Regions from separate parts of the Homo sapiens genome. Here region 2 is linked to region 1. Evidence: fine-mapped expression QTL. Tissue or cell type: whole blood. Region 1 holds a variant in brackets; the other region holds the start of a gene. All regions are shown on one strand. Distances are from middle to middle.

Region 1 (5,147 bases):
CCCCTCTCTGGGCAAAGGAAAGACCAATCAAAAGAGGGGTGCAGGACTATGGAGTGGCCAGACTCTGGGCTTGCAGCTGGGCTCCCACTGAAGAGCAAGGGCTGACAAATGGGCCCGGGATGCATGGGCGCAGTAAGGCCTCGCCCAGAGTGACTGGCACCTCCGCTCCGCCTCCCACCTTAGTATTCTGACACAAGGGCAGTCTAAATTAGCATCTGAATGACCTTAAAGCTTGTTGAGTCCTGGAAAGGCTAGAAGGGTGTGCCCCAGACCTCCTGCTCCTAGGGCCGTTGGGCAGTTGGCCAGAGCACCCAGACCGGCAGGCCCCGGAGACCCAGCCAGCCCCAAGCCTGCCCGCTCCAAACACGGACACCTGGCACCTGGCACTGGGGCCAGGCAGAGGGAAGGACCACCTGCCTCCTCTCCCTTCCGGAGACTTCATGCAGCCCCATGACCCTCCCACAGCCTGGTTTGGGGAAAGGGGACGCACTTTTGGTGGTGAATATGAGGGATTTCACTCTGACTCCCCAGAGAACATTTTCTTAAACCCTCCTGCACGGAGCAGGGGTGGAGTGGCGCGAACATCAAAGGTCGAGCTGCTATTCCCAGCTCAGGGGCTGCAGGAGGCAGGCAGGGTCAGGTTTCGACCAGGCTCGGCCTCCCTGTCCCTCCTCCAGCTCCATTCCGCACTTGCTCCTCTGTTCAGGATGTCTAGAATTTAGAGCACTTTAGAAACCAAAGGGTGCTGGGCACGGTGGCTCACTCCTGTAATCCCAGCACTTTGGGAGGCTGAGGCAGGCAGATCACCTGAGGTCAGGAGTTTGAGACCAGCCTGACCAACATGGTAAAACCCGTTTCTACTAAAAATACAAAATTAGCCGGGTGTGGTGGCGCTCACCTGTAATCCCAGCTACTTGGGAGGCTGAGGCAGAATCACTTCAACCCAGGAGATGGAGGTTGCAGTGAGCCAAGATCGTGCCACTGCACTCCAGCCTGGGCAAGAGGAGTAAAACTCCATCTCAAAAAAAAGAAAAAGAAAAAGAAAAGAAAAAAAAAAAACAAAGGGTGAGTGTCCCTTCCTGACCCTCAACTTCAGTCTGGCTGGAGTCACACTGGGCTGAGGGAACTATGGACAGCACCACCACAGATCACAGCCACTTGGGTGGGGCTGAAGTCCCCATTTTTTTCACCACTGGGCTATTTCTGTAGGCTGCTTGGTCTAACTCAGTTACTCCTTGACCTTTGGCAACATTTCTGTGGCCTCGTTCTCAGGGCTGGGAAGGAATTGGTGCCAGGGGAACTGGCTCTGTGGACCATAAAGGTCACATAGTGTCTGCTGTGTAAACAGGCTGGGGACAGAGGGGCTAAGGACACCTATTCCTTCCGGCATAGGGATGTCAGACCAGGCGATCATGGAGCTGAACCTGCCCACGGGGATCCCCATTGTGTATGAGCTGAACAAGGAGCTGAAGCCCACCAAGCCCATGCAGTTCCTGGGTGATGAGGAAACGGTGCGGAAGGCCATGGAGGCTGTGGCTGCCCAGGGCAAGGCCAAGTGAGGGGTGGGCTTGGGCAATAAAGGCACCTCCCCCAACAGCCTGGAGTCCAGCGCAGCCGTGCATGCCAGGCTCACACCGCCATCAGCTGTGGGGACTCCAGAACCAGGGGTGCAGCCACCCACCCTCCCCCACTCCATACGTGTGTCACCAGGGGCAGGAGCCTAGTACCCACACCTAGTCATCAGGACACTGAGCCAGGGCTGCAACCACTCCATGAGTTTGCAGTCAGGACAAGCCTGTGGTGACCCTGAAGCTTCAGAGCCACTTAGTAACCATGCTCCAGAATTGGCGTGCTTGGGGCCAGTTAGAAGAGGCCAAGTGACCCAGCTCTCCCCATGGGGAGCAAGGACCACAGCCCAGGACACGGCTTCCTGGACAGCTTCCTGCAGAGGGCAGGTGGTCCTCTGCTGTCCTTGCAACCCC[C/T]GGGTGGCACTTTGAGCCCTGCCTCTTGGGTTGGGACAGGCAAGCCCACAGGGGGCCTCAAAGCTGGCAACAGCCCAAACCTGGGTCTTCCATGGGAGTGGAGGGGAAGTTCCCTCTTCATGGGAGAGGCACCAGGAAGCCCTGGCGAAAAGGGGAGAGGCCTGAGCACAGGAAGGCCAGGAGCAAGGTTGGGCTCCATGCAGCCTTCACCCCAGGCACTAGCAGGTAACACCTTGAGTCAACCGCCTAGCAGTCTGCCTAGCAGCTCTGGGGCACAGGAGGGACCTAATTCCCCGGATGCTCAGTGGGTGCCAGGTACCTGACGCCACACAGTGGGCCATCCCATGTAGGCAGAGGCTCCCTGAAGCTGGGAGCAGGGCAGCCCTTGGCCTCTCCTAGAGGAACTGGAACGCAGGAAGGCTCCAACTTCAGTCCCATCTTAACATTTAGCCTCTTCCTGGTGGCTGATCATCATCAGCCACAGTCTCAGGGTGAGGGTGCTCACCCCAGACACGGAGCAGAGGCAGACACTGGGCAGGTGGTGGGGTGCTATTCCCACATGGGAGCATTCAGGCTACAGCAGGACAGGTGAGAGCTGCGAGCCTGTGTAGACCAAACTGGGAATTCGTGGTCCAAAAGCATATTTGTTCTTCAGAGACACGGATGAGCTGGGACAGAAAATAGGGGAAGACAACAGGCCAAGGCCACTCTGTGTTACTTTTCCTGAAGTCAGAATCAGTTGAGGCACACACTGGGGCCTGCAGGCATCGAGTGAGCCGCGTGGAGGAACATGTTGTGTCTGCCGTTTTTGAATACCCAGGGTGGGAGCTTGGCCATCTGCATCCCCACTTCCCATAGCCCAGGCAGAGGGACAGAGAAATGGAGTGGGGAGCACAGAGCAGGCTCCAACAAGACAAATTCCCTGCTGCCAAACCACCATGATCCACTCTGACTTTGGTCACAAACTCTGCTAAAAACAATTCTCTACGTTCACTGTTCCCAAGGGTCATTCTAAACAGTGGTGGCCACCACCCCTTAGAAGCAAGAGAAAAAGAAAAAAGGCAAATAAATGCAGAAGGCAGCCAGAGCCTCCCAGATGCCCCTGCTCAGGACCCTTCCCCGCAGCTTGGCAGTGGCCACTCAGGGCTTGGCCACAGGCAGGGCTTGGCTCAGTATCCTGTCAGGGGCAAGAGCCAAGCTGTCTGGGAGGGTCGGGGGATGCAGGAAGGATGTGTGGGAATCACCAGGCCATTGCTGCATTTGGGGTGACAGGCTGAGTCTGCCAAGCCGGAGGGAGCCCTGAGGCCTCATCCTCACTGGGGGTCCTATTCCTGGAAGAGTGCTGAATGTCAACTCCCAGGCCTCCTCTTCCAGCAATAAGGAAGCCATGTCTGAGAGGGGAAGGGCAAGATGTGCCCTCAGCCTCACTCAATGAGCTCCACGTAGTTGGCAGGGAACATGCCAAAATGGCCATCCGGCCCATAGCCACGCCACCAGCCTTCGTCGATCACCTCGATGCCCGTGATGAGGTTCTCGGGGTCAAAGGAGATCTCTGTGTCGTCGGCTGCAAAGAGGATGAGCCCAGATGCATATCAGGGGCTCCCTCCCACATCCCACCTGCTCGGGCAGCCCACGGCAGCCCCACACTGCTGCAGCACACCTCGCTGCAGCTCTGGTTCCTCCTCAGAAATATCCCTGCCACCCTGCTAAGCCTTGGCCAACACTGCACCCTGTCCCAATGCGGCTCCAGTGACCACACCCCCAGGGCATACCCTCCTACAGAGCATTCCCAAAAAAGGCTAGAGTAGACACCAGCCTGCTCCGTAGGGGGCCTCCACCCCATTCTCCAAGGCCTCCACCCAGGGACGCCTGGTGAACCAGCATCCAGGCCTGGCCCACCTCCCTGCTCAGAGTCCATGTTCTGTGACAAGGGTGGCAACTGGGATTCACATCAGCGGCCAGCAAATAGCTAATGAGGAACATGTAGGGAGGCCTGGGCTGTGCAGAACACTCTAGTGCCACAGTCACCCCCACTCCAGAGGTGCTTCTACCCCTAAACGCACCGCCCACCCTCCTGTCTTCTCTTCCTGATACCCCCTGGTGCCATCTTCCCATAAAACCCCAGACCCTCTTGTCTCCTAACCTCAGGACCCTGTGGTCTGTGCCAGCCAGGCCAGGGCACCTTACCTGCCTGGTAGTCGTACAGGGCACGGGCACAGAGCCCTTGCCCACTGAGCCCCTGGCCCTGAATGTGGTGGTCAATGTGCTCAGAGCCAGCACCTTGCTGCTGCACCTGCCCAGGGATGACAAAGGTGTTACCCCAGACTCAGCCCTTACACACAATCGCTGCTCTGCCCCACATGGCTCAGGTCAAGCTGGGAGTACGCAGAGGGCAAGCAGTCTACAGGCTCGGGGGCTGGGCTGCTGCTGTCCCCGCCCTACCAGAGTACAGAAGCCACAGGACAGTGCATAAATCCCTCAGCCATAGGCTGCAAGGTCCTCTTCCCACCCAGCACCTCCTATAGAGTGGGGCGTGCCCTGACAATTTATAACACAGGGCTGCTCCAAAAATGCATGTGCTTTAAAACCTGTTGCATGCCCCCAGAAAACTCAGGCGGCCCGTGATAAGTGTTCCTGAGTATGCAGCCCCTTCCTGGCCCCAGCCCCAGTGTAGGAACCCACCAGTGGGGGCTGCTCGTAGAAGGTCTCCTGCTCTGGAGGTTCCTCATACACAGCCTCCTCTTCTGCCTGCACCAGACATGGAGGAGTGCTGGGCGCCGGCTCCTCAGCAGGGAGATCTGCACCAGGGAACACAGCAGGTTCTCACTCCCACACATCCCCCTTCTCCACTGCTGTCCCCCAGGGTCCCCATGGGGTGACAAGCGCCTTGCCTGCCCTGGGCCTTGAGATGGCAGCAGCTGGCTCTCTGCCAAAGTGGGTCTCTGGTTGGGTGAGCTGCTTCTGCAGGAAGGGGCTCCTCAGCTTGCCTGCAAACCCGGGTAAATATATACATCACTTCAGAAACACCACCACACACCCACGCACCCCACAGCACCCTCCACCCTGGTGTGCTCGAGGCAGTCTCATGGGGCTTGCTCTTGCTAGTGCAGGAACAGAGGCCCCAGGGCCATGTGCTATGTGGTGACGTGGTAGACAGCGCAGCCC
Region 2 (5,147 bases), 62 kb before region 1:
GTGAGCCGAGATTGTGCCACCGCACTCCAGCCTGGGTGACAGAGTGATACCCTGTCTCAAAAAAAAAAGCCGAATAAACGAATAAAGATCTCATCTATGGCCGTACCACCCTGAATGTGTCCAATCTCAGAAGCTAAGCAGAGTTGGGCCTGGTTAGTACTTGGAGGGGAGAAATAACGGTCTATGCTAAAGGAAAATTCAGGTGCAATTAAAGTAAAATTAATTATATAAAAGAGAATACATTAAAAGCTAGTATTATTGTAACTTTGGTTTGTAATTCCACCAAGTGGAATTTGTTCCTGAAATGCTAGAATGGTTCAACATAAAAATCAATAAATGTAATAGACCACATTAACAGAAAAAAAACCCACACGGTCATCTCAATTGATGTCAAAAAAGTATTTGACAAAATTCAACACTCTTTTGAAAGAAGAAAAAGCTCAACAAACTAAGAATAGGAGGAAACTACCTCAAATAATAAAATCCATAGGCCAAATCCCCAAACTCACAGCTAGCAACATATTTAATGCTAAAGACTGAAAGCTTCCCCTTTAAGATCCGGAATAAGACAAAGATGCCCACTTTCACCACTTCTACTCAACATAGTATGGGAAGTTCTAGCCAGAGTAATCAGGTAAGAAAAAAGAAATAAAAAGCATCTGAATTGGAAAGGAAAAAGTAAAATTATTTGTTTGCCCAATACATGTACAATGTTTCAGGTGAAGGCTCAGAACAGTACAACCTTACCAGCAAGAGTCCTGCTGTCTCTGTGTGAATCCCAGCTATTACTCACTAGCTACATGATCTCTCTTGCCCTCCCTGCCTCAATTTCCTCATGTGTAAAGTGGGAGAAAAATAATAGTTCATGCTTCAAAGGTTTTTTGTTTGTTTGCTTGCTTTGAGACAGCGTCTGGCTCTGTCGCTCAGGCTGAAGTGCAGTGGTGCAATCTTAGGTCACTGCAACCTCAGCCTCCTGGGCTTAAGCGATCCTCCCACCTCGGCCTCCCAAAGTGTTGGGATACAGGCGTGAACCACTGTGTCTGACCCAAAGGATTATTTGAGGAGCAGATGAATTAATGTGTCATAACCTCAAAGCAGTTGCAAAGGCGTTTAATAATTAAAATATCACATTTTAAATTAAAATATAAGGCTGGGCGTGGTGGCTCATGCCTGTAATCCCAGCACTTTGGGAGGCTGAGGTGGGAGGATCACTTGAGCCCAGGAGTTCCACACTAGCCTGGGCACCATTGGGAGACCCTGTCTCTACACACACACGCACACACACACACACACACACAAACTTAAAGTAGCCAGGCGTGGTGCTGCGCGCCTGTTGTCCCAGCTACTCGGGAGGCTGAGGCGGGAGAATCACTGGAGCCTGGGAGTTCGAGGCTGCAGTGAGCCGAGATCGCACCACTGCACTCCAGCCTGGGCCACAGAGCAAGACGCTGCCTCAAACAAACAAACAAAAACAAAAATTAAAATATTAAGTAATAATTAACGAGTGTTAATATCCACTCGTTGTGGAGACAAGACCTGGACTTAGGAAACAGGCCCAGGGAAGTAGCAGAACAGTAGCGCTAGAGGACGCCTGGGAGAATCAGCGCGCGGCGGGAAGAGCCCGGGAAGCTTAGTGGGGAAGCGTCTCTTGATGGGGTGAGGAATTCTATAAATTAGTGGAGATGGAAAAAAAAAAAAAAAAGTATTCCCAAAGTGGGAGACAGCACTCAGAAAGACGTGGTGGTAAGAACGAGTATGAGTAACGGGGACAACGAGGACACTGGAGATTGGGGAGTGTTGGGCTGGAAGCTGGTGTGCAGCTGTGGGCAAGCTAGGGAGGACCCCGAAACCGCCAATGCGTTTCCCGGACGCAGACGCTGGCAGGACGGGAGGAACCCCGAGACCCCGCGCCATCCCTTCAGGAAGAGTTACTTCTCCCCGGCCAAGTTAGTGGGCCTTGGGCCTTCTTTCTGTTGGGATCCTCCTCGCGTGTCGCCATCGCTACAAGTGGGCAGCTCTGCGGGGAAAGCTGGGACGCTGGGGGCTTCACCAAGGAGGCTGGCGGCCGACCACTGGGAGGTCTGGCGGGGTGACGACCACTGGGAGGTTTGGGCAGGGCCTGACGGGGTGACGCGGTCAGCCCACTGGAGGCCGACACCCCCCGTCAGCCCAACCCCTGCACGCGCGGCCGCCAACCAAAGACCCGCGGCGCCGGCCTGCGAGCCCCCGCCCCGCGTTGCCCAGGAAACCGAGGGTGTGGCTCCGCGTTCTCTGGGCGTCCCAGGGACTGGGCGCACAGTGGTCGGCGGGATGAGGCGCCTGGTGACGGACGGGGCGAGGAGGGCAGCGATTGGTGAGATTAGGCGATGGGCGGGGAAGCCGCGCGGGGATTAGCGAGTTGCGGCGATGGGCGGGGCAGGCGCGCGGGGATTGGCGGGATGCGGCGCGCCGCGCGGTGAGTGGGGTCCAGGGAAACGGGGTCAGCTGGGGGTGGCAGTTCCAGGCCGCGAGGCCGGGCTCCTGGGTCGGTGGGCTGGTGTCTTGGCGGACGTCCCGCAGCTGCCGCGTGGATCCGAGCCGGGGCACCCGCCGTGACTGGGACAGCCCCCAGGGCGCTCTCGGCCCCATCCCGAGTAGCGCGGCCTGGCTGCTGCCGCCATCAAGCACGTTCGAGCCAAAAGCTCCTAACGAGTCACTCGTTAGACACGTGTGCGGAGCCTGTGTCCCAGGCCAGTGCTGTCCCGTGGAGATAGATTGCAAGCCGCTAGGGAATTTTTTAACTTTCTAGTAGGTGTACGAAAAAAGTAAAACGAAACAAATCAATTGGAGTAAATCCATAAATATATTCAAACTATTATTTCAATTGTATGTGAAAAAATTATTGGGATATTCTTTGTACTATTCTTAGAAATCCATTGTGTGTCCAACCCAAACATCACAGTTGGACTCACCACATCTCCTGTACTTCGTAGCCCTAGGTGGCTAGTGGCATAAGACACAAAAATCTCAGCTCTCCTGGAGCTTATGGTCTAGTTGGAGCAGGCAGACAATACATTTAAAATATACAGTTTGTTAGAAGGTAAATGTTGTAAACAACAATAACAGTTGAAGTACTGGGGAGAGTTGCAGTTGTAAATCAGATGGGCAGGGCACAAGGTAACATTTGAGTAAAGATGTAAGAACTTGAAGGAGATGGGCAAGTGAGCTCTATAAGTATACGGGAGAGGGGCAAGCAAGAGTTCAGAGGCCCCTTGCTGTGGGGAGGGATCCAAGGTGGAGGAGTGGGAACCAGGAGGGGAGAGGACCAGTGGAGCAGATCTCATAGGCAGTTGTAAGGACTTGGGGCCTTATTCAATGAAATGAGGACACTTTGGAGAGTTTTGAACAGAGCAGTGACTGATTTATGTTTTGGTTTTGGTTTAGTTCTATTATTATTTAATAATAGGCTTATTATTTCACAGAAGTTTTATTTAATAAGGCAGACCTCTTGTCTGGAAATGAGACAGGTGCCGGAGAGCTGGATGGAGGCAGATCGGGAATTCCATTTGGGGCAAACTGAACTTGATTGAGACCCTGGTAGTTGTCCAGATGGAACAGGACACCTGAGTCTAGGGTTCGGGAAGAACTCCAGATGGGACAAACACTCCTAGCTTTCCTTTTCTCTTTTTGGATGACCGCTACAGGGTGAGACATCGGTATCCAGGCACGATAAATTTCCAAGTGGACACAATGTCTGGTGTCAACTACAGCTGTTCTCCTTCTTTTCCCAGTATCCTTTGGGTGCAGTGAGACACCAGGAGAGCTGCTGCTTTGGGGGATGGACAGGGGCAGCAGGAATGCCTTTGTGTTTTCGCAGTGAACCTCCTTGGCCTGGGCGAAGCTGTGTGGACCAAGCAAGTCAGGAGTGTGGCCATGTTTTCTGAGCAGGCTGCCCAGAGGGCCCACACTCTACTGTCCCCACCATCAGCCAACAATGCCACCTTTGCCCGGGTGCCAGTGGCAACCTACACCAACTCCTCACAACCCTTCCGGCTAGGAGAGCGCAGCTTTAGCCGGCAGTATGCCCACATTTATGCCACCCGCCTCATCCAAATGAGACCCTTCCTGGAGAACCGGGCCCAGCAGCACTGGGGTAAGTGAGAGTTTGGGAAGGTGCTTCCCCCACAGCATCCCTGAACTTAGAAGTGTTCTGCAAGAGAATGGGAACAGTTTATCTAATTGATCCCACTTCCTGTTACCTTGGGAAAATTAACCTCTTTTTCCCTCAGTTTCTTCTTAAGATAGTAACAAGGATTAAATTAAGTAATTTGTGGGTTTGGAGTTAGTTTTAGTTCAGAGGCTGGTTGGAGATGAGGACTTAGTTCTGGCGGTGATGGCGATTACTTCACTGGCAGAGGAAAATGGTTTTCCTATCTTCAGTGCAGATTATTCAGGTATTTGCCTGTGCTGTAGCCAGAGAGCCCCTCAGTGTGGCAAGCCTGGCGCCAGGCACCAGGAGCCAAGACTGGTGAGGATGCACTCTCTGGTCTCGAGGGGACCCCCTCTGTTCACTCATGTCTGTTTGCCTCTCCTCCTGGCCCCCATATTTGCTGGCCATGAATTTTCCTGTCCCTTGGGCCCTCTGTCTTTCCTAATAAAGTGGCCTGCCCAACACAACCCTTGTTCTTTGCCCCCATTTCTTCCCTGGTGATCTCTCCTGCAGTTGGATTACTCTTGGTGGTGAAGCAGGGACCCCCATCTCCCCCTTTGAGTTTATTTGAGTTTTAGGTGCTGCTGCATTCCCCCATTCCTACCACTTACATAAGAGTGGCTTTCCAGGTAATTTTCAAATCCATCTCCTATTATATTTTTAAACTGAGGATTTAGTAGGTGAGACCAGGTCTTACTCATTTTTACTGTCCTTGGCACCAGGCAAAATGGATCTCAGCCCTAGTTGCACATTGGAATCCCCTGGGGAGCTTTGAGAAGCCCATCTCATCCCATGCCAAGCCAAGATCAATTCTCGTTATAGGCAGGCAGGAGAACCCTGGGCCTAGAAATCTAGCTAGAACCTCAAATTCATTAGGGATATGTATTAGTCCATTTTCACATTGCTATAAAAAACTACCTGAGATAGGGTAATTTATAAAGAAAAGAGGTTTAATTGA

What was found. PIP is the estimated chance that this variant, and not a neighbour inherited with it, causes the effect.
Region 2: POLD2 starts here. The variant in region 1 is fine-mapped to the expression of POLD2 in whole blood (TOPMed, PIP above 0.99).

What each region holds. Positions count from the first base shown.
Region 1 is chr7:44,059,176-44,064,322 of GRCh38, reverse strand. It overlaps DBNL (drebrin like), which reads right to left. Exons shown (of 13, transcript NM_001014436.3): 10 at 4,874-4,969; 11 at 4,665-4,780; 12 at 4,170-4,275; 13 at 1-3,546. The coding sequence ends at 3,407. It overlaps PGAM2 (phosphoglycerate mutase 2), which reads left to right. Exons shown (of 3, transcript NM_000290.4): 3 at 1,393-1,596. The coding sequence ends at 1,559. Among named protein-coding and RNA genes, the nearest start is that of PGAM2, 3.8 kb to the left of the region's middle. RefSeq lists enhancers at 64-173, 3,697-4,273, 4,274-4,849, 4,793-4,952. The variant C/T (reference allele first, on the strand shown) is at 1,983.
Region 2 is chr7:44,120,819-44,125,965 of GRCh38, reverse strand. It overlaps POLD2 (DNA polymerase delta 2, accessory subunit), which reads left to right and starts at 2,418. Exons shown (of 11, transcript NM_006230.4): 1 at 2,418-2,455; 2 at 3,857-4,132. The coding sequence starts at 3,913. It also overlaps the pseudogene RNA5SP230. RefSeq lists enhancers at 1,753-1,812, 1,332-2,236 and a silencer at 2,023-2,732.